Linked DNA regions of Homo sapiens: region 2 is linked to region 1. A link means that fine-mapping ties the variant in region 1 to the plasma level of a protein whose gene starts in the linked region. Region 1 holds a variant in brackets. A gene starts in the other region. All regions are shown on their forward strands.

Region 1 (10,149 bases):
TTTTTCTACTCCACCACCCCACACCGTTTTTTTGGAGACAGGTTCTCAGTCTGCTACCCAGGTTGGAGTGTAGTGGTGGGATCATGGCCTACTATGGTCTTGAACTCCTGAGCTTAAGTAGTCCTCCCACCTTCAGTCTCCGGAGTAGCTAGGACTACAGGCATGTGCCACCATGCTGAGCTTTTTTTTTTTTTTGTATTTTTTATAGAGACAGGGTCTTACTCTGTTGCCCAGGCTAGTCTTGAATTCCTGGGCTCAAGCAATTCTTCCACTTCAGCTTCGCGAAGTGTTGGGATTACAGGAATGAGCCACCGTGTCTGGCCTTACTTTTAAATATTTATTTTTTGTATCTGACCTAATAAAATTTGCTTATTAGTTTTATTTTCTCCCTTCTTTTTGCTGTGATACATTTCAAATCTAGAGAGGAGTCAAAAGAATGGTAAAGTGATATCCTATATACTCTTCACCTAAATTAACCAATTACTAATGTTTTACTGTACTTGCTGACTTTTGTCTCAAATCATTTGTGAAAACGAATTGACATAACTATCAAGACACTTCATCCCTGTATATTTCTACATAATCATCTACCTACCTAAGAAAATGGCCCATAATTCATCTAATATATACTCTGTGTTCAAATTTTTCCAAAAATATTTGTATAGCCTTTTAGAAATGAATCCTGGATCCAAAGTTTATGCATTGCATTGGTTATAAGGTCTCTTGAGTCTTATATTTTTGTTTGCTTTGTATAACTTCTTTTTCCCAAAGATACATGTTTGTTTAATACATCTTATGTTATTTCTTGGCAGGAATTGTATCTTACACCTATTTTCATTCTCCACTATATAGCATAGATAGCTAAGAAATAATTGCATATAATCCAAACAGTATATTTAGTGGCAAGTTCTGGATGTGTGACAGCCAACTTTTTTTTTTTTTTTGAGATGGAGTCTCGCTCTCTCACCCAGGCTGGAGTGCAGTGGCGCAATCTTGGCTCACTGCAGCCTCTGCCTCCCAGGTTCAAGCGATTCTCTTGCCTCAGCCTCCCAAGTAGCTGGGATTACAGGCACGTACCACCACACCTGGCTAATTTTTGTATTTTGGTAGATGGGGTTTCACCATGTTGGCCAGGCTGGTCTTGAACTCTTGACCTCAAGTGATCCGCCCGCCTTGGCCTCCCACAGTGCTGGGATTACAGGCATGAGCCACCGCACTGGGCCTGACTGGTCTTTTTGACATTATGGTCATCGTATTCTTTTTACAAAGTAACTTTGAATTTGTTAACATTAAAGTTGGATTTTTTTTTTTTTTTACCATTGAAAGTAAAAAATTCTATACTACCAAAAAAATAGCTATTGTCTTGTTTTTCCCCAAGAAACTTAATATGACTATTGATAAATACAATAAAACAGATTACTGAAGGAATGTTTCTGCAAAATGGTGCTATGTCATGAGACAGGGACTCTATAGTTAAATAAATTTGGGGGACTGTTGGATTCTATTTTTTTTTTTTTTAAAGACAGGGTATCACTCCCATTACCTAGGTGGCCGTGCAGTGGTGCAATCATGGCTCATTGTAGCCTCATCCTCCTGGGCTCAAGCAATACTCCCACCCCATTTTTTGATTTTTTGTAGAGACAAGGTCTCACTATGTTGCCTAGGCTGGTGTTGAACTCCTGGGCTCAAGTGATCCACCCACTTAGGCCTTGCAAAGTGCTAAGATTACAGGCGTGAGCCACTGCATACGGCCTGTTGCTTTTTTTTTTTTTTTTTTTTGAGACGGAGTCTCGCTCTGTTGCCAGGCTGGAGTGCAGTGGCGCAATCTTGGCTCACTGCAACCTCCGCTTCCTGGGTTCAAGCGATTCTCCTGCCTCAGCCTCCTGAGTAGCTGGGATTACAGGCATGCGCCACCACACCTGGCTAATTTTTGTATTTTTAGTACAGACGAGGTTTCACCATGATGGTCAGGCTAGTCTCGAACTCCTGACCTCAAGTGATCTGCCCGCCTTGGCCTCCCAAAGTGCTGGGATTACAGGTGTGAGCCACCGTGCCCGGCCCAGTTGCATTCTTTATATCCCTCTTGGAGGTTAGTGATACATTTTTAAAATTCTGCTATAAAGGAACCAGTTTACTTTTGTTTTGTCCTACTGTTTCACCAGCTATTTGAGCATAGAACATATTTTGTTATTATAACTTAGTTGTTAACAAATGCTAGTTTGGGAAAAGCTGCTCCAGAGGATTTTTAAAATAGTCAACAGTTTTTTTTGTACTCAATTGTAGGAGGTATTTAATCATTCATTTGCTTAAAACTTATTGAATGTCTTCTTAGTCCAAGAATTATGCTATACCCTTACAATACAAAGATAAATAAATAAAAGTCTCTGTCTGTAAGAAGCTTACAATCTAAAGCAAAATAAATTTTTTAAAAAATAAGTTCAACATAACTTTATGAGCATTTATTTTTCTTTTTAGCTACCATTTATGGGGTGTTAACAATATGTTAAGCACTATGCTAAGTATTTCACGTGTATTGTTTCACTTAATCTTCACAAAAGCCCTGAGAGGTATATGGTATTATTGGTTATCTTTTCTAAGCTTTAGTTTTCTGAAGCTCAGTAAGATAAGTAACTTGCTTAGACTCATAATTCCATTGAATCCTGGAGTTAGAACCCAGCCTGTTTAATTTATATCCTTAACTAATATACAATATTTCTTTGTTGGAATAATGTACGGAATAATGTACAAATTAATAGTGAGGGTACAAATGAGGAGTGGTTTGTTGTTCCAGGAAGCTAGAAAATCATAAAGAAGATGGTATCATTTGTGTTTTAAAAGACAAGGTTGAGCAGGGATGCATGGTAAATATCACCTAAAAAGGCATAGACTGTAAAACTGGGTTCTACATGTGTTTGGGTATAGGACACTGAGCAAGAGGAGATGAGACTAGAGAGCAAGGTCACATTAGAGCAAACCTCCTATGTCAGAGTAGATAATAGGCAATGGATAGAATTTTTAGCAGAAGAGTAATATTATCGGATTCGCATTTTAGAAATGGTCTTAAGCTGCAGTGTGAAAGTTGGATTGGAGGAATGGATTCTAGAGAGTGTCATACCATTAGGAGATTATTCTGTTAAAACAGGTCATAGATACACAGTTTTTAGTTACAGACTAAAGTAGTAACTAGAGAAAGACGTGTCTGTCTCGGAGACGGATAACGTTTAAGTATTTGTTTGATTAAAGCAATTTTTCTCAATTGTTTAAGAGGAAAGCAGTAACTACATCATGTGCGCTAAAATTTGTAGGTTTACTTTCTTTTGGAATGGGGATTAGATTAGATTCAAGGATGCTGCATTACCTGAAAATTCGGATTGAATATGAAGTTAACATGCCTTTACGAATGGAGGTTAGCAAATAACACTGTTTCTAAAGTTACAGACTAAGCTCTTACTCTGAATGCAGCCAGAATTGTCTGGCAACAACATGAGGGAAAATAGTATCTTATGCCTGTAATTGTATTTTTATATTATGATTTTTTTTTTGTTCTATGGTTTATCTCTCATTTTAATCACACGTTTTATGTGTATCTTGAAATTGTGCCTAGGGAAGTGCTAATGGAAATAAAACATTGAATTTTTTTAAAGCAAAAAATCTGTTTTCATGTATTTGTTTAAAAGAGAAAAATTTAAAAACTATGACTGGCGAGGCCGGGTGCAGTGGCTCATGCCTGTAATCCCAGCACTTTGGGAGGCCGAGGTGGGTGGATCCCTTGAGGTCAGGAGTTCGAGACCAGCCTGGCCAACATGGTGAAACCCCATCTCTACTAAAAATACAAATTAAGCCAGATGTGGTGGCGCACCACTGTAATCTCAGCTACTTGGGAGGCTGAGGCAGGAGAATTGCTCGAATCTGGGAGGCAGAGGTTGCAGTGAGCCAAGATCACACCACTGCACTCTAGCCTGGGTGACAAGAGTGAGACTCTGTCTCCAAAAAAAAAAAAAAAACATCACTGTGGCTGGCGAACAAGTTCTGCCTATAGCTCATCTGTCAGATGACAAGTAGCAGTGACCTACTTTTCTAAGTGGGTGCTTTAGAATCTAATTCCTGATTCTTTCTTTTTTATTTTTATTTATTTTTTGAGACAGAGTCTCACTCTGTCACTGAGGCTGGAGTGCATTGGCACCGTGTCGGCTCACTGCAACCTCCGTCTCCTGGGTTCAAGCAATTCTCCTCCCTCAGCCTCCCGAGTAGCTGGGATTACAGGTGCCCACCACCACACCCGGCTAGTTTTTATATTTTTAGTAGAGATGGGGTTTTACCATGTTGGCCAGGCTGGTTTCGAACTCCTAACCTCAGGTGATCCACCTGCCTCGGCCTCCCAAAGTGCTGGGATTACAGGCATGAGCCACCACGCCCGGCCCTGATTCTTTCTTTTAAAACAGAACAGCAATACTAAAATTCATATTATGGGCATCTTATCTTTGACTATCCTATATTCCTTTTTGTATTATGGTGAAATGTTCTATATGTGGTTAAATTTATGTTTTGTTCTAATTGGTTGTTTGCCATATTTTTCTTTTATTCTTAGGCCTGCAAAAATTCAATCTGTCTTGATTTATCTACTAATTGTTTGCATGGAAGATTAACAGGAAACAAAGTAGTGAACTGGGACATTAAGGTAAATTAATAGTAAATGTTGGGCAACATCTTACATAATTTACTGATACTCTTATTAAGGATTTTGTTTTTAAAGCACTGCCAGATTGATCTAAATAATAGGTCTCAGTTAAAGGGTTATGCAAACATACAATTTGAAGGGTAAACAAATGCAAAGTTAAATGACTAACATAGTTGAATGACTTTGGTTTGAAGTATAGTTACCTTTGTAAGCTACAGCAGGTCTTTGGATAATGTCGTTCATTATAAAGTCAGTGAGAAAAAAATTGATTCCTGGCAGGGGCAACTGTCTGTGTGGAGTTTGAATGTTTTTGCCATGTCTGTATGGGTTCTCAAATCTTATTTTCCTTTTTCATTGGCCTCATATTTATGTCACAGCTGGAACTTTGCTTCCATCTAGAGGCTTCTACTTACTTTCCAAGACCAAACTGCTCTTATGGGTATCCCTAGCACTTTATTATTTCACTTACCATGGCAAATAGTAACTG[C/T]TTGGTTAATGCTCTAGTAGTCCAAAAGAACTTTGAAGGAAGGGTCACTGCTTTTTTCTTTTTTTTAATCAGTTCCTGGTACAGGGTTATGCAACAAATAAGTGTTGACTGAGTGATTAAATTAGTAAAGGTTGTTTAGGGTGAGAAAGGCTTAATTCTTAAATATAGTGTTTCCTTAAATGATATTTTAAATAGAAGTTATAACCTAAGTTAAATAAAAGAAATATAAAAGATAATTATAAGAGGGCTTGCCGGTAAATCAGGGAAATAAAAGATAATTATAAGAAGACTTGCTGGTAAATCAGGAAAAAAAAAAAAACTTTTCTAATCAGTTAACACCAACCAAATACGTTTATTATTTCAGTGAAAAGAAATCATTAAGATAATTTTGCCTATGTAGAAATTAATCTATCAATTAGTGTTAATTTCATGTTATTCATGATATATAAAGGATTTTTCTCCTTAATTTTGGTATAAGAACACTTGTTCTTTTTCTTTTCTTTTCTTTTTTCTTTTTTTTTTTTTTGAGGCAGAGTTTTGCTGTCGCCCTGGCTGGAGTGCAGTGGATCTCGGCTCACTACAACCTCTGCCTCCCAGGTTCAAGCGATTCTCCTGCCTCAGCCTTCCAAGTAGCTGGGATTATAGGCACCTGCCACCACACCCAGCTGATTTTTGTATTTTTTAGTAGAGACAGGGTCTCACCATGTTGGACAGACTGGTCTCGGACTCCTGACCTCAGTTGATCCGCCCACCTTGGCCTCTCAAAGTGCTGGGATTACAGGCGTGAGCCACCATGCCCGGCCAGAACACTTTTTTTTATCTGTTACCATAGTAGGATTTATGACATGAATGACACTTCATAAGTTAACTTTTGCTTTACTTGTAAGACTGGTTTTACAAAGCTGATTCCATGTGGTATTTTATATATAGAAATCTGTTTATATGTACCATACATACCTGAAAATCAAAGCCGTTTTTTTGTGGCCTGAGTTACAGCTATGTGGATTATTAACTAGTTAGACTTTTGGCTAATGTGGAAATCAAAAAGCAACAGATTATCAAGAGAAAGGCGTATTTTTATACTGTAGCCAAATCAAAGACCAAAAAAGTTAAATGACAACTGGTAAAATAATATTTGCCTTCCAAAAAGTTAATTTACTTATTTACACAAAGAGCTCTTCAAAACTGGTATGACAAACAGTCAAAACAAAGTAGAAGATATGAGGCCAGGCACAGTGGTTCACACCTGTAATCCCAGTACTTTGGGAGGCCATGGCGGGCAAATTGCTTGAGCTCAAGAGTTTGAGACCAGCCTGGGCAACATGGCAAAACTTTGTACAAAAAATACACACGTTAGCTGAGTGTGGTGGCACATGCCTGTAGTCTCAGCTACTTGGGAGGCTGAGGTGAGAGGATCACTTGAGCCTGGAAGGTCGAGACTGCAGTGAGCCGTGATCAGGCCAGTGCACTCCAGCTGAGTGACAGAGCGAAACCCTGTCTCAAAAACAAACAAGAAAAACCCAACAAAGTAGCAGATATGTAGGATGAACAAGTCCAGAGATCTAATGTAAAACATGAGGACTATAGTTAATAAAATTACATTTTATTAGGGAGTTTTGTTAAATAAGTAGATTTTAGCTGCTCTTGTCACAAAGTAACTATGTGAAATGATAGAAATGTTAATCTGCTTCACTATAGTAACCATTTTATTATCTATGTGTATCCTACAACATTATTTTGTAAACCTCAAATATACACAATAAAATTTATTTCTAAGAAAACAAGCAAAGAATGTGAAGAGGTTGTTTGAAGACTTAAGTTATGTCCACGTGGCAATTCAGAACACTTTAATAATTAATAATAAGAGCAAACCTTGTATGGTATCGACTGTATGTCAGAGACTGCACTTTTTATATATTAGCTTACTTAATCCTTGCAATACTTTATGAAGTGGGTGTTACTATTATCCTCATTTTACAGATGAAGAAACTGAAGCCAGTGATATTAGTAACTTATCAAAAGATATAGAAAATATTTTATTAAGCTACCCAAAATATCCAAAACTTTGAACTTTGCCTGAAATACCCTCTCTACCTTTTTGTTAACTAAAAGTCGAGGAGTCAGTCATATTTCTACCACCAAATGCATTTTTTTTCATTGTTTATTCTCTTGTTTATTATGCCTAATTGCCTAGTGACAGTTGTTTTTCCATTGTTGGAGTTACATTATAAAGTCCACTTATGGGGCTATGTTTCATTTGCCTATGTTCGAAATCCCTAAAATTTGGAAAATGAAGATGGAGTAAAAATGGTCTGGCCTGATCTCTCTTGAGTTTTGATTATGGTGACCCTTGAGGCTGCCCTGTAAAGCATCTTCCTACACAAAAATTCCTTCAGCTTAGGTTATCCTGTACATTGCTCAAAGGTTTATCTAGCAGATTATAACTTCATACATGTGAAGATATTAAATGACAAAATTGTCCTCCTTTTATAAGATTTAAACATTATAATTTTCCCTTTAGGATATCATAAACTGCATAGGTGGGTTAAATGTACTCTTTCCTTTATTGGAACAAATCAGCCACTTTAGTGAAGGACAGATTCCTGAAGAAAAGAATGAAAGCACAGTTCCTGAATCAGTAACACCTGTTGAAGGAGATTGGCTCGTATGGACTTCCACAAAGGCCTCAGGTATTAAGATGAAATTAACACAAAATAGTCATTGAGAAATTTGAGAATTAATTGAGAAATAAATGAAAATGTTTTACTGTCATTAGGAAGAAACTTAACCATTTGTAGCTGTAGCAGTTGTTTCTACTTTTACTAATATCATTCAGAAAGTTTATAATACTTTCATCAAAAAACGACAGATTAATCTCCAGTATCCTTAGTTTATACTCTTAGTGGAAATATGACCACATTGTTAAATTTGTGGTAGAGAAAATATGTGCACATAAATATACAATATTATAGTTGCTGCTTTTTCTGATTCTATTGTACAATAGAGCGTTGGAAGCTGACTGCTGAACCAGATTTCTACTTTGTGTAACAGTGTGCATTAAGATATAGAAAATGTGATATAAAAGTGATTAGAGAAATTATGATAATTAATATGTTCCTGATTCTACAGAGTCAAGACTAGAGAGAAACCTAGTTGCAACATTTATCTTAATTGTGAAACATTTTATTCAGAGACATCCTATCAACCAGGGCAATCTTATTCACTCCCATGGAGTTGCAACTCTTGGTGCTTTACTTCAGAAGGTGAGCCAGTCTAACATTGTGTTGATGTAGCTAATAATTGTGATTTGCAGTTGATGTTGGGATTTTTTCTTCCTAATAAATATATTTTTAAAGATTATTACAACTTGAATTATATTAATGGATATAATTTGTTCACAGGCAGCTTTTAAAAACTTGTATGGAATCATCTTATACAAGAAATACTTATTTTATGTAATAGTGTATAATCTTTGATGTATACAACCTTGTTTGATAGCTTTGATATTTGGGATGTTGAGAAATATAAGACTATTTTAGGAATATGACACTAGGAGAATATATTCTGGTCTAATATCAGAAAAACCAATACTTAAGTTTTTATTTTTCTAATGTGGGTTTTTCTATTTTTATACTTAGTAGATGTTCTGATTAATGATTTAAAATTATAACTTAATGACAGTTATTTAAACTGAACTATATGAAACCCTCTTCTGTTTGGTTTCAGGTGCCAAGCACCTTGATGGATGTTAATGTGTTGATGGCAGTTCAGTTACTAATTGAACAAGTATCATTAGAGAAAAATATGCAGCTCCTGCAACAAATGTATCAATATTTACTCTTTGACTTTCGTATTTGGAACCGTGGAGATTTTCCCTTTCGAATCGGTGAGAGCAGGCTTTCAGATAAACATTTTATAGTTGTTTTAGAAATTTATAACTACCTATTGACTTTATTTTAGCTGAATTACTTACCATTGAACTTTTTATTTTAGGTCACATACAGTATCTTTCAACCATCATTAAAGACAGCAGGAGAGTTTTCCGAAAGAAGTATGGTGTGCAGTTTCTCCTAGATACACTTAGGATTTATTATGGGTATGATGCCCTTGTTCTTTCTCAGTTTGATATATTATTTTCTGTCTGCTACTTGATTGGAATGTGTAGACTGTAGACTTTCTCTTTACCAGCGATTCTAGTATGTTTTAACTGGAGAGAGGTAGGATACAGTGGAGGTTAAAATGATGAACAGTGGATCGCATACACTGAGTTTGAATCTGGCTTTCATTAATTGTGCAACTGTAGGCAAATTACTCAACTTCTCTGTGCTTGGGTTTCTTCATTTTTGAAAGGAGATAAGAAAACTGTTACCTCCTTTGGTTGTTTTGAGGATTAAGTTAATTAGTTAATAATGTAAAACACTTAAAGTATGTCTGCTATGCAGTGGGTGTTGTATTCACATAAGCTATTTTATTCACTGAAACTCTTAACTCAGAAGATTTTCCTTAAAAAGAAAAGCAAGCCAAAGTTACTATGAATCTCAGAATTACATGGAAATATTTTTTTAACACTATGAATTCTTTTATGTAGAAAATATAGAAATGTAAAAATTAGGCTGGGCGCGGTGGCTCACGCCTGTAATCCCAGCACTTCGGGAGGCTGAGGTGGGCAGATCGTGAGGTCAGGAGTTTGAGACCAGCCTGGCCAACATGGTGAAACCCCATCTCTACTAAAAATACAAAAATTAGCTGGGCGTGGTGGCGTGTGCCTGTAATCCCAGCTACTCAGGAGGCTGAGGCAGGAGAATCGCTTGAACCCAGAAGGCAGAGGTTGCAGTGAGCCAAGATTGTACCACTGCACTCCAGCCTGGGCAACAGAGCGAGACTCCATCTCAGAAAAAAGGAAATGTAAAAATTAAAATTTCAATTCTTATACTTTGTTTTGTCTTTCAGGAATGGTTGTAAATATAATGAACTATCTCTAGAT
Region 2 (10,149 bases), not on the chromosome of region 1:
AATACTAAGCATTTGTATTAGTTTTGTCTTTGTTTATTTAATTTAGATTTTCTCAAAGAAAGAGAATAAATAACTATTCTAATGCCTATGTCCCAGACGTAGGGTATCATATTTCAAATCAGCCTAATTCACCAATGGTCATAGGATATCTAGTGACCTACAAGTATTTTTTATCCCAATAAATATCTCAATTTATTAATCCATGGTCTGGAGCATTTGGTTCAGGGCTTGATACTTAATGGATATATCTATTTCTATATCTAATTCTAACAATATTCATATGTATATGCATATATATTTACATATAAAATGACTGCTATAATAATAAGGTTTTAAAAAAATCAAGCCACAAGATTATTATTTTTTCAGTTCTGTTTGGTACAATTAGATGTGTGCTAAGATCAATAAAACATAATTAAAATATATTTTTAGCAGCATTTCTACATTCATGATATTTAGGTACTATTATATATAATTTAGGTACTATTATATAATGTATCCTTGTCATATGCCATTTATTGACAGGGATACATTCTAAGAAATGCATTGTTAGGCGATCTAATCATTGTGCACACATTATAAGTGTACTCACGCAAACTTAGATGCCATAGCCTACCACACCTTTAGGCTATATGGTATAGGCTGTTGCATCTAGGCTACAAATCTGTATAACATGTTCCTGAATACTGTAGGCAATTGTTAGAAAATGGTAACTGTATGTGTATGTAAACAGAGAAAAGGTACAGTGAAAATACTATATTATAATTGTATAAGACCACCATTATTGATTGAAGCATCATTATGTATTGTATGACTGTATCATAAATCACAGTAAATAAATAAGTAAAATATAACAATGACTTAAAGTTTCCTGTTACCTGACACTAATAACATTTCAGACATAATCAAAGTTTTAGAGGCACTCTACTGCTTCAGTTCTTTTTTCTTTCTGATAACCGCTAATCCTTTTCTCTTTAATAAATGCAGGAGAGCATCTGGAGAAAAACAAAGTGCTAGTATGATTTTTTTTATTTTCTGTTTTGAAAACATCCTCTGGGAAGAAAAAGTGAATAAGGTGCAAAGCTGATTGGGCGGTTCGTTCTAAGCTGCAATTTAATAAATTAATTGCATCATCCCTGGTTGTACCCATTCTCCCTCTTGCCTAGCTCAGTCAATGTTCTTCTAAGTCTAATGCAAAAGCCATCTATTTTTTCCTTGATTTTATTTGAATATTAGTTTGTCTTTAGAAACCAAACACCAAATTGAAATAAATTTTGGTCTCTGATAGTTTTCAAACTTGTTCTACAAACAGTTTATATTATTGCAAAGCAAGTACTATAGTTGCTACAAAACTGTATTTGTGTTTTGTGTAATTATGAAATGTGATGTTTCATTGTTTATGTTAAACAGTTGCTATAACATCTAAATGGTTGTAATATCTTCCCATGTCACTTAACTTGATTTAATACAAAATTTATTATATGTTGATATTTATATTTTATGCTGAGTAGGTCTTGTTATATAATAATATGGTATGAATTAAAATCTTTAATTTTTCGATAATGATATCTGAGTTATCAACTTGCAAATAATGTAATTGGTAACAATCAAAGCAATTCTTGTAAGCATGCATTCATTGCAAAAATGACAATATAATGCTAACTCATATGTATTGTTGCAGAGTGTCATATGACATATTATTTAATGTGTACTTTAATATAAAAATATGCAGATGTTCATATACTGTTAGTGTATTGTAGGCTAATGTTTTTATATTTAATTGCAGTACTTTATTTTTTAAATAAGCATCACTTTGCCCTTTTTATAATCTGGTATTATCTATTCTAACATGCTACTCTGTAGTTTTGCCATTAAAAGACTTTAAAAATTTTGATATGTTTATCATGTAATTGAGCAATCGAAAGAGAAATAAATGAAAATAGAATAAAAATATTGAGTCTATATCTCAAAATTTTTATTAATGATTAGGATATTCAACAAAACATTATCGTTTTTCTTTTTTTTAATTTTATTATTATTATACTTTAAGTTTTAGGGTACATGTGCACAACGTGCAGGTTTGATCGTTTTTCTTTTAATAAATTCTGGTGCAATTGGATACTGTCTCACATGATTCTGAGAGAACATAGTAGCATAAACATTATCATAAAAATGGGGCACATTTTCACAAATACAGCTGTGTATCTGAATTTAGATCAATTTGCTTATCAAAATAGTATTTAATATTGGAAATAAAGACAGGAGTTTTTGTTTGGAATTCAGACCATTCTAGTTTTTGAGGAATTGAGTTTTTGAGGAATTTGAGTTTTTGAGGAACTGAGTTTTTGTTTGGAATTAAGAAAATTTACTGGCAATTTTTGAAAATGCTAAACTGTTATAACAATAACTTTCAAATAAAAAAGGTGACAAATCTTTTTTTGTATTTTTAATTCAATTTTGAAAGTACTATTAATATTCCCTAGCTGATTTTAACAAAAAATACTAAATGTTATACTATAAGATGTGAGTGTGATAAAATAATTTGTATAAAGAGCTATTTTTTGGGATACTTGAATATCAACCAGATTTTCAAAATAAGGGACAAGCCAAGAATTTTTAAAAGATGTTCAAGCAAATATTCAAAATATTTTCCCTGTGTATAATTTCCCTATCTTTTAAAAAGTTACAATTAAATAAATATTTATTTCTACTTGGAAATAAACCCTCTTAAAATGGTAGAGAAAGAGCCATCTAGATAATATTAATATGATCTAGAACAAGCTCTCTTAAATGTATTTGAAGAAATTGGAACAACGACGTCTTTATATCAAACTTAAAAAGCTTGTTTTGTTGCAGACTAAGTGAAGTGGGGAATTGAGGAAGTCTGATTATAAATAGACTACATCACTGTCTTTCAGGGATTCTTCAGCTATGCTTTAGGCATGTATACATATAGAAGACACTACATTAGATATAAGAAACTTAAGATGTTTTATCTGTCCTCAATTAGGAAGAACATTTGCAAACTTCATTGTGTGAATAATTTGAACATTTATTAGAGAGATTTCTTGAGTCTTCTCTGAAAATTAAATCTCCTCTTAGGTTGCTATCTATTCAATTACAATTCTCTTAACATCTGGGACCGTCTAATTTTGGTAAGAATGAGCAGATGCTGGCAAGAAACCATCGAAATGAAGATAATATTCAATGTAAATATATATTATACTTATCAAGAAATGACTCGAAGAAGGAACCAAATTTATAGATAAGATGTGACTTGTTTAGCTATTAGTAGCTTATGTTTTATAAAAATGAAATATGGAATACATCCCAAACATATTTTTACAATTAAAAAACTAGGACAATACAAACAAACAACAACAACAAAAAATTAGGAGAACAAAACAGAACTTTGATAACCCAATTAGAAATTTATTTGGCATCCAAAAGACTACTTTATTTTATATCCAGAGAAAATTCTGAAGATTTTTATTCAAATGTTAAAGTCACACTTTAAAAGCTCACGCTTATCCTTAAACAAAGTAACTACTTATATAAGTAAACTGTCATTGTATTTATTGTAACTATGAGATAGTTTATATTAAGGAAGGCATTACACAGACTAGTGACAGGAGCTCCTAATTGAGTTTATTATCATGAAATATATTCATAAAAATGTAGAAGACATACTCATAAAATAAAAATATATAATAAATAGAAATCATAAACAATGAAATCACATTTCAGTTTACTTTTAGTCATTCATAGATTTTATAATCCTTAATATTTAATTCCCTGGTTAAAGTGGAACTGATGTTATCAAAATAATAGTTTTACAAGATTATAGGATGAGCAGAAAGTACATTTGCTTACTATTTCTATAATAGTAAAATAATAGCAAATGTAAAATATTTTGCTACAATTTAAACAAACATATAAAAAGTGAACACAAAGGGCAAAGGGGACACGCTCATAAATCACTGTAAATCAAATTAGAAAACAGGTTTTGTTTTTATTTACATAAAATAAACAGACCTCTCATTTGCCAGTTGTTACTGTTAAAGTTTTAGGTGACAAAATGTTGATTGAGAAAAGTATTTTGTTCAGGAAAAAGTAAGTTAACTACTAACTTTATCCCATTTAAAAAGAAAAAAAAAGGAAGACTAATCAAAGATTACTTTTACAGAGAGATTCAATAAACAATGCATTTAAGGGTAAGCCAGTATGAAATGTTTTTTCTTAGGAAACTCACTAAGAATATATATCACAGTGATTCCACACGTGCTATGGTCCTTTATACAGAGTTGAATAAATTCATTATTTTCTCAGCAGTTAAATAAACAAAGTCTGCGTTCCCTGAATAATAGGAAGATTTGATGCATGTGCCTGCTGGCTCACTTCCTCTGTCCCATTTGCAAGCTTCAGTAACTGTTCCCCACAGAGCACCAAAGGGACACAACAAACACATGAAGAGATCACTCTCATCCCACAGAATGAGCTTTACAGTAACTTGGATCTCTACACGAAGGTGTAAATTCAGAGCAACTTACCCGATTCTCTGCAACAAAGATGGCAAAGTTTGCAAGGAGTGAAAATCATGTAATACTTCGGGGAAATGCAGGATGCAGCTGCTGCTCCAGCCTGTAAATTGGACTGCACTGACATTCAGTGTTACTGAATGTAACAATCAACTGTTACTGACAAAGCTCGCGAGAGTTGGCAGCAGCAACTTGAAATCTGTTCAGAGGCTAATGGTATAAATGCAATAGTGATTCATTTACAGAAGTATTACAGGATTCATGCTTTACAATTGCAGGTAGTCTTCTAAGAATGAAGAAAAAAAGCATAGAAGATTCTTTAACTAAAATAATCTGAAATGTAACAGAAAATGCATGTTTCTTTTAACTCTAAACTTTAAAAAAATTTTCCTTTTTTTAAGAATATACATATTTCCTATGCTTGTCTTAAGATTTAAAGACGTATACATCATTCTAAAGTAGTGCTATTATTGAAATCCATTATAGCTTCAATCTGTGCTAATTATATAGTTAGAGAAGATAGTAATATAGAAAATAAGAAACACAATGCTCTAGATATAAGCTATGCAAATCAAAAACTTAGTTCTATTAACTGAATGGATGTCTCTGATATGTATCTCCTTTCAACCCCCACACTTCAACACTTATTTAAGTCATACAAATTTCAGCATTGGTAATTTCCTATTCAGAAGACCCTGCAGGCAGTCATACATGATGAGAAGCCACAATTTTCTGGTCAAGACAGGAAAAATAAAATGAATAACCTTCACCAAACTCTATAAAAGAGACACATTTGTCAACTTGCAGTGCACATGCTCTGGAGAATATATTTATGTCTTTGGCGCTTATCTTTCTTGAAATGATGTTCAGGAAAATAATTTTTTAAAAAACCTTTGATAAACTCCTTAATCCCTATCTTCTCAATGCAATATATTCTTAATCTTCTGTAAGTGATAGCTTTCACTTTTGAATCTCTTACTTGTGGGCTTTCTATGGACTAAACAGAAGGCATGTATTAATATTTGCAGGTGAGCACTTTTTTGCCTTTTAATAGAGTGTTAAATTTTCAAACAAGCAAATATAATTAGCATTTGTTGTAATTCTACCTTATGCCAGTCATTATAATTGACAATTTATATTAAATATTTTATATTATTTCAGCAAATATGAGAGTTAATATTATTAACCACCTCATCAGATGAGAAAGCTAAGGTTTCTACAAATCAGAAGCTTACTATATTTCTTACCACTAGTAGCTGTTGGAAAACAGAATTTTAATCTGTATTATTCTGTTATTTTATGTCAACTGCTTCCAAGAGAATAACCATTTTGGTCTTTTAAAATTATCTTTTCTGTGAAAATTGCTACTTAGGCAGTGTTAATTCAATGATAAATATCATGATCACAATAATTTATAATGTATTTAGAATATAGTTTATGTAATAACAAGTTAGTTACACAAAAGGTACAGAATACATAATCTATCTGAAAAGGAGAAAAAGGAGGTGGAGCACAGTGGTTCATGACTGTAATCCCAACATTTTAGGAGGCCTAAGTGGGCGGATTGCTTCAGTCTGGGAGTTCAAGACAAGTCTGGACAACATAGCAAAACTCAATTTCTGCAAGAAAATGGGTCAGACATGGTGGTGCAAGCCTACATTCCCAGTTACTTGGGAGGTAGCTGAGGTAAGAGTATCACCTGAGCCTAGGAGGTCGAGGCTGCAAGCCACGATTGTGCCACTGCACTTCATCGTGGGTGACAGAGTGAGATCCTGTCTCAAAAAAAAATTAATCAATAAATCAATAAAAGCAGGAAAAGGCTTTTTAAATGGAAGTATATTGACAAATTTGCAATGGTTTTTATAGTGATGGCATTTCTGTTTAAAATATAGTAAATCTGATGTTCCACATGAGAGTTCATGGGTTCAATATACATGATTTTTAAAAATCCAAATGTCAAAATTCTTCTCTCCAACCCAAGTCCACTGCATTGTTTCCTGTGCTAGCATAAGGTCAGCCTATCAAACGCGGCAATTATTAAGGAATATTTTGTGACGTTAGTGAATTCAGCAAAGCATTTTACATGCTTCCTGCATCTACTCACTGCTAGGTAAAATATGTCACATATATACACATATTTCATTTTCATCTTTAAACAGGAAGCCAAACAATAAAATAATTGGTTTCAAGCAGATCTTTATCTTTAACGCATGTTTAAACTGGCTAACTAGCAACATCAACTGATTACACAAGTTGGCAATTTTTCTTCTTCTCAATGTCTTTACTTCAAAGAACCACCTTCTGTTACTGTCCCTGTAGTTCTTTTCCTCGCATGATTTCACAGCTATGCCACATTAGTTCATTCATTATTTTAGTGCACCTCTAAAGCATTTATTCTTCCTGTCTTGAGAGTTTCTTCCTTGTGGCTCAACTTACAGCAGCTGCTTTGCTTCTGTGGTGTCATCATTTTCTCACACTCATCCAGCGGAAGGATGTAGGTCACACACAGTGAGCTTGTTTCAGGGTTAGTAGGGAAGCACTATTCCATTACATCACAGCATGGATGGTTAATGATCCTGCTGTTAAATGTTGAGTATGCCTTGTAAGCGACACTGATGAAATACCACAAGACACTTGACACGGCATTAACACTGCGCACATTTTGCAACCATATATGCTGAAGCTTGGGCAGGACAATCATTATGGTTTTGGCTCTATGATCACTTTCAGTTAGCCAGTCACAGTGGTTTTTTGCTTTTAAGGTCCCATTGTAACTCAGTTACCACTGTTTTCTAGATAGCAGCATTCAGTAAGATTTGAGATGGTGTGAAAAACATTAATCCTGTATTATACATTAGTTTTCCTTAGGCATACTGATGCCAAAAAAGTGCTCTAAACTTATATTAATTTTATTCATTTTTTTTACAATAGCACTGCATTCTCTGAAATGAATATGGATAACAAAGAAAAGTATATATAAGTATAGATAGATAGATAGATAGATAGATAGATAGATAGATAGATAGATAGATAGATTTTTTTTTTTTTTTCCTGAGATGGAGTCTCACTCTGTCGCCCAGGCTGGAGTGCAGTGGCAGGATCTCGGCTCACTGCAACCTCTGCCTCCTGGGTTCAAGCAATTTTCCTGCCTCAGCCTCCTGAGTAGCTGGGATTACAGGCACCCACCACCAAATCTGGCTAATTTTTGTATTTTTAGTAGACACAGGATTTCACTATGTTGGCCAGGCTGGTCTCGAATTCCTGACCTCAGGTGCTCCACCAACCTCGGCCTCCCAAAGTGCTGGGATTATAGGTGTGAGCTACTGCATCCAGCCCAGAAAAGTATATTTCTACATTTTACATATCACAGAGAATGAAAAGACCATTTTGTATATTCCAATCAATTTTTTAAAATATGTGTATGTGGTTATAGTTACATAGATAAATATAGTGGTAGTCAAATGGCTTATCATCATTCTTCTTGCTTTTTATCTTATGATATTAATTTCCTATTAAAATATTTTGATTACTGTGTGATATATTATCATATGGGCATATTATGGTTCATTGTATCTCTTGTTACTTATATGATGATAATAATAATTTTAGGTAATAAATATTATTTGAAAGCACTATTCTATCCACTTTGAATACATGAATTCATTTAAAACTCATGACTACCTTTAAAATAAGCACTATTATTAACCTTATTTTACATTTGAGAAAATATAGCCACAAAGAGTTTAAGTAACTTGCTCCAAATCATACAGATACCGAGGTTAGCTTCTGACTTTTTTTATGTATTATTACAATAGGCATTTTGTATATCGATATTTGAGTGCATCTTTTAATTATTTTCTTAATTTATTTTCCCAGAATTGGAATAACCAAATACGACATGGACAAAGTACATATACATATATGTGTGTGTGTATATATACATGTGTGTATGTATATATATTTATATGTATATTCAATCTTCTGAAATCCTACACAGACTGTTGAATAGAGATAACTTTCCAACAATTCTGGCAAAAAAGAGAAATGTTCTTATAATCAGAACTAACCTGAACATGTCTCTGGAGCCCAGGTACTAGACCCTCATAGCTGGATGTGGCAGGTGTTTGAAGGTGGATATCTCCAGAGATATTAGAAGTAGGTCCAGAGCCACAGGTAATAAAATTCTTTAGTGATGTTGTAGCAACTAATATGGAAGGCCTTGCAGGAAGTGACATCTGTAAGGGATAACACATAGATATTTTGGGGTTAAGGGAGAGTGAGTGATGGGAGGTCTGTGGTGCCTTTTACATGAAGATACAGATAGTTTGGTTAAAGGAGTTTTGGAAAGAGACAACAACAATTTGGTGAGACACTAGAATATTAGACTCTAAGAACAGAAAGAAAATCAAGAAAAAGCAAGAGCTTCTAAGGAAATGTGGTGCCAAGTGGATTTTCATGGAATTGGCAAAGCCAGCAGAATCAAAGTAAGAAAACAAATTCTGAACTAAATTGTTCAGGGCTTGAGCAAAAAAGGAGAAACTCATTGTTTTAAAACATAAAAAAAGAGAGAAAAACAGCAAGCTTCTTTGTTTATCACCTAATTTACTGAATTGGCTTAAATTTACTCTTCCCAAACCCTTGACTATCTTTGGAGTCTCACTCTCAGAAAAATTGCAAAGTAACACATTATCAAATTCATCAAAGTGCTATTTAAACATCCAGATTTCTAGGCCACATCCCTGGGCTTTGGTTTCAGTAGACTTGAGGACAGCGTTATACTACTGTCCTCTGTGAAGCTGATAGAGGGAGTTCACAAACTACACACTAAGAGGCAAAGTCCTGGAGCTTGGATACTAAGGACATTTTTGTGCTACCATATATATATATATGCTTTTTCTTTTTTTTAATTGCTTATTCTCATGCACAACTGTACCTTTTGCTTCAAGCTAATTTGGAAATACATCATACATAGTCTTTGGTAGCCTACTTTCATATAACCTATCTTAAGTTTTTCCAAAATAATGCTATCGAATATTTTTTTAACTTCATTTATATGCCTATGTATTAATTATTTGTATAAGTACAATATAATTTATCTAACTTGCTTTTATTGTATATGAAGGCTATTTTAAATTTTTCCTGGAAATAGTAACATAAAAATGGACTTAGTAATTATAAATATTTTTAAATATTTCTTATTTTCTATGGAATAATTGCTTAAATCAGAATTCTTCAAAAGGTTATCTATGCTTTTATGGCTAAGACATATCAACCAACTACCTTCACAAAACATCAGCAATTTATACTCTCACCAGCTGTCTAGGAAAGTGTATGTTGTTCTCATGCTCAAAAACGCAATTTATTATTACATATCTTTTGTCATTTCATTTGATAAAAATGTACTATTTTTAGTTTATTTGCTTATAACTGTTACCACCCATATTTCAGGTGTTTAAAAGTAACTTTTTATTTCTGTACAATTTTAAATTTATGGAAATTTTCAAATTAGTGCAGACAACTTCTATATAATATTTACTCAGATTCACCATGTGTTAATATTTTAAGCCATTTTCAGTTATGTCTTCCTTTATACATGAGATAAAATATGTGC

Direction of the effects. Positions count from the first base shown, and alleles are read on the strand shown. Strength reflects both the effect of a copy and how common the allele is.
In carriers of allele T in region 1, the plasma level of the protein whose gene starts at base 4,660 in region 2 tends to be higher than with C alone (moderate association).

The links. PIP is the posterior inclusion probability: the model's chance that the variant is causal. Protein levels are from antibody-based Olink assays in UK Biobank. Linkage for the fine-mapping came from a reference panel and not from the study's own genotypes, which makes the PIPs less certain.
Region 2: BCHE starts here. The variant in region 1 is fine-mapped to the plasma level of the BCHE protein (UK Biobank, PIP above 0.99).

Annotation. Positions count from the first base shown.
Region 1 is chr2:203,117,666-203,127,814 of GRCh38, forward strand. NBEAL1 (neurobeachin like 1) reads left to right here. Exons shown (of 56, transcript NM_001378026.1): 19 at 4,589-4,678; 20 at 7,687-7,855; 21 at 8,295-8,428; 22 at 8,892-9,051; 23 at 9,159-9,261; 24 at 10,116-10,149. Among named protein-coding and RNA genes, the nearest start is that of NBEAL1, 110 kb to the left of the region's middle. The variant C/T (reference allele first, on the strand shown) is at 5,166.
Region 2 is chr3:165,832,764-165,842,912 of GRCh38, forward strand. It overlaps BCHE (butyrylcholinesterase), which reads right to left and starts at 4,660. Exons shown (of 4, transcript NM_000055.4): 1 at 4,551-4,660. RefSeq lists an enhancer at 4,478-4,772.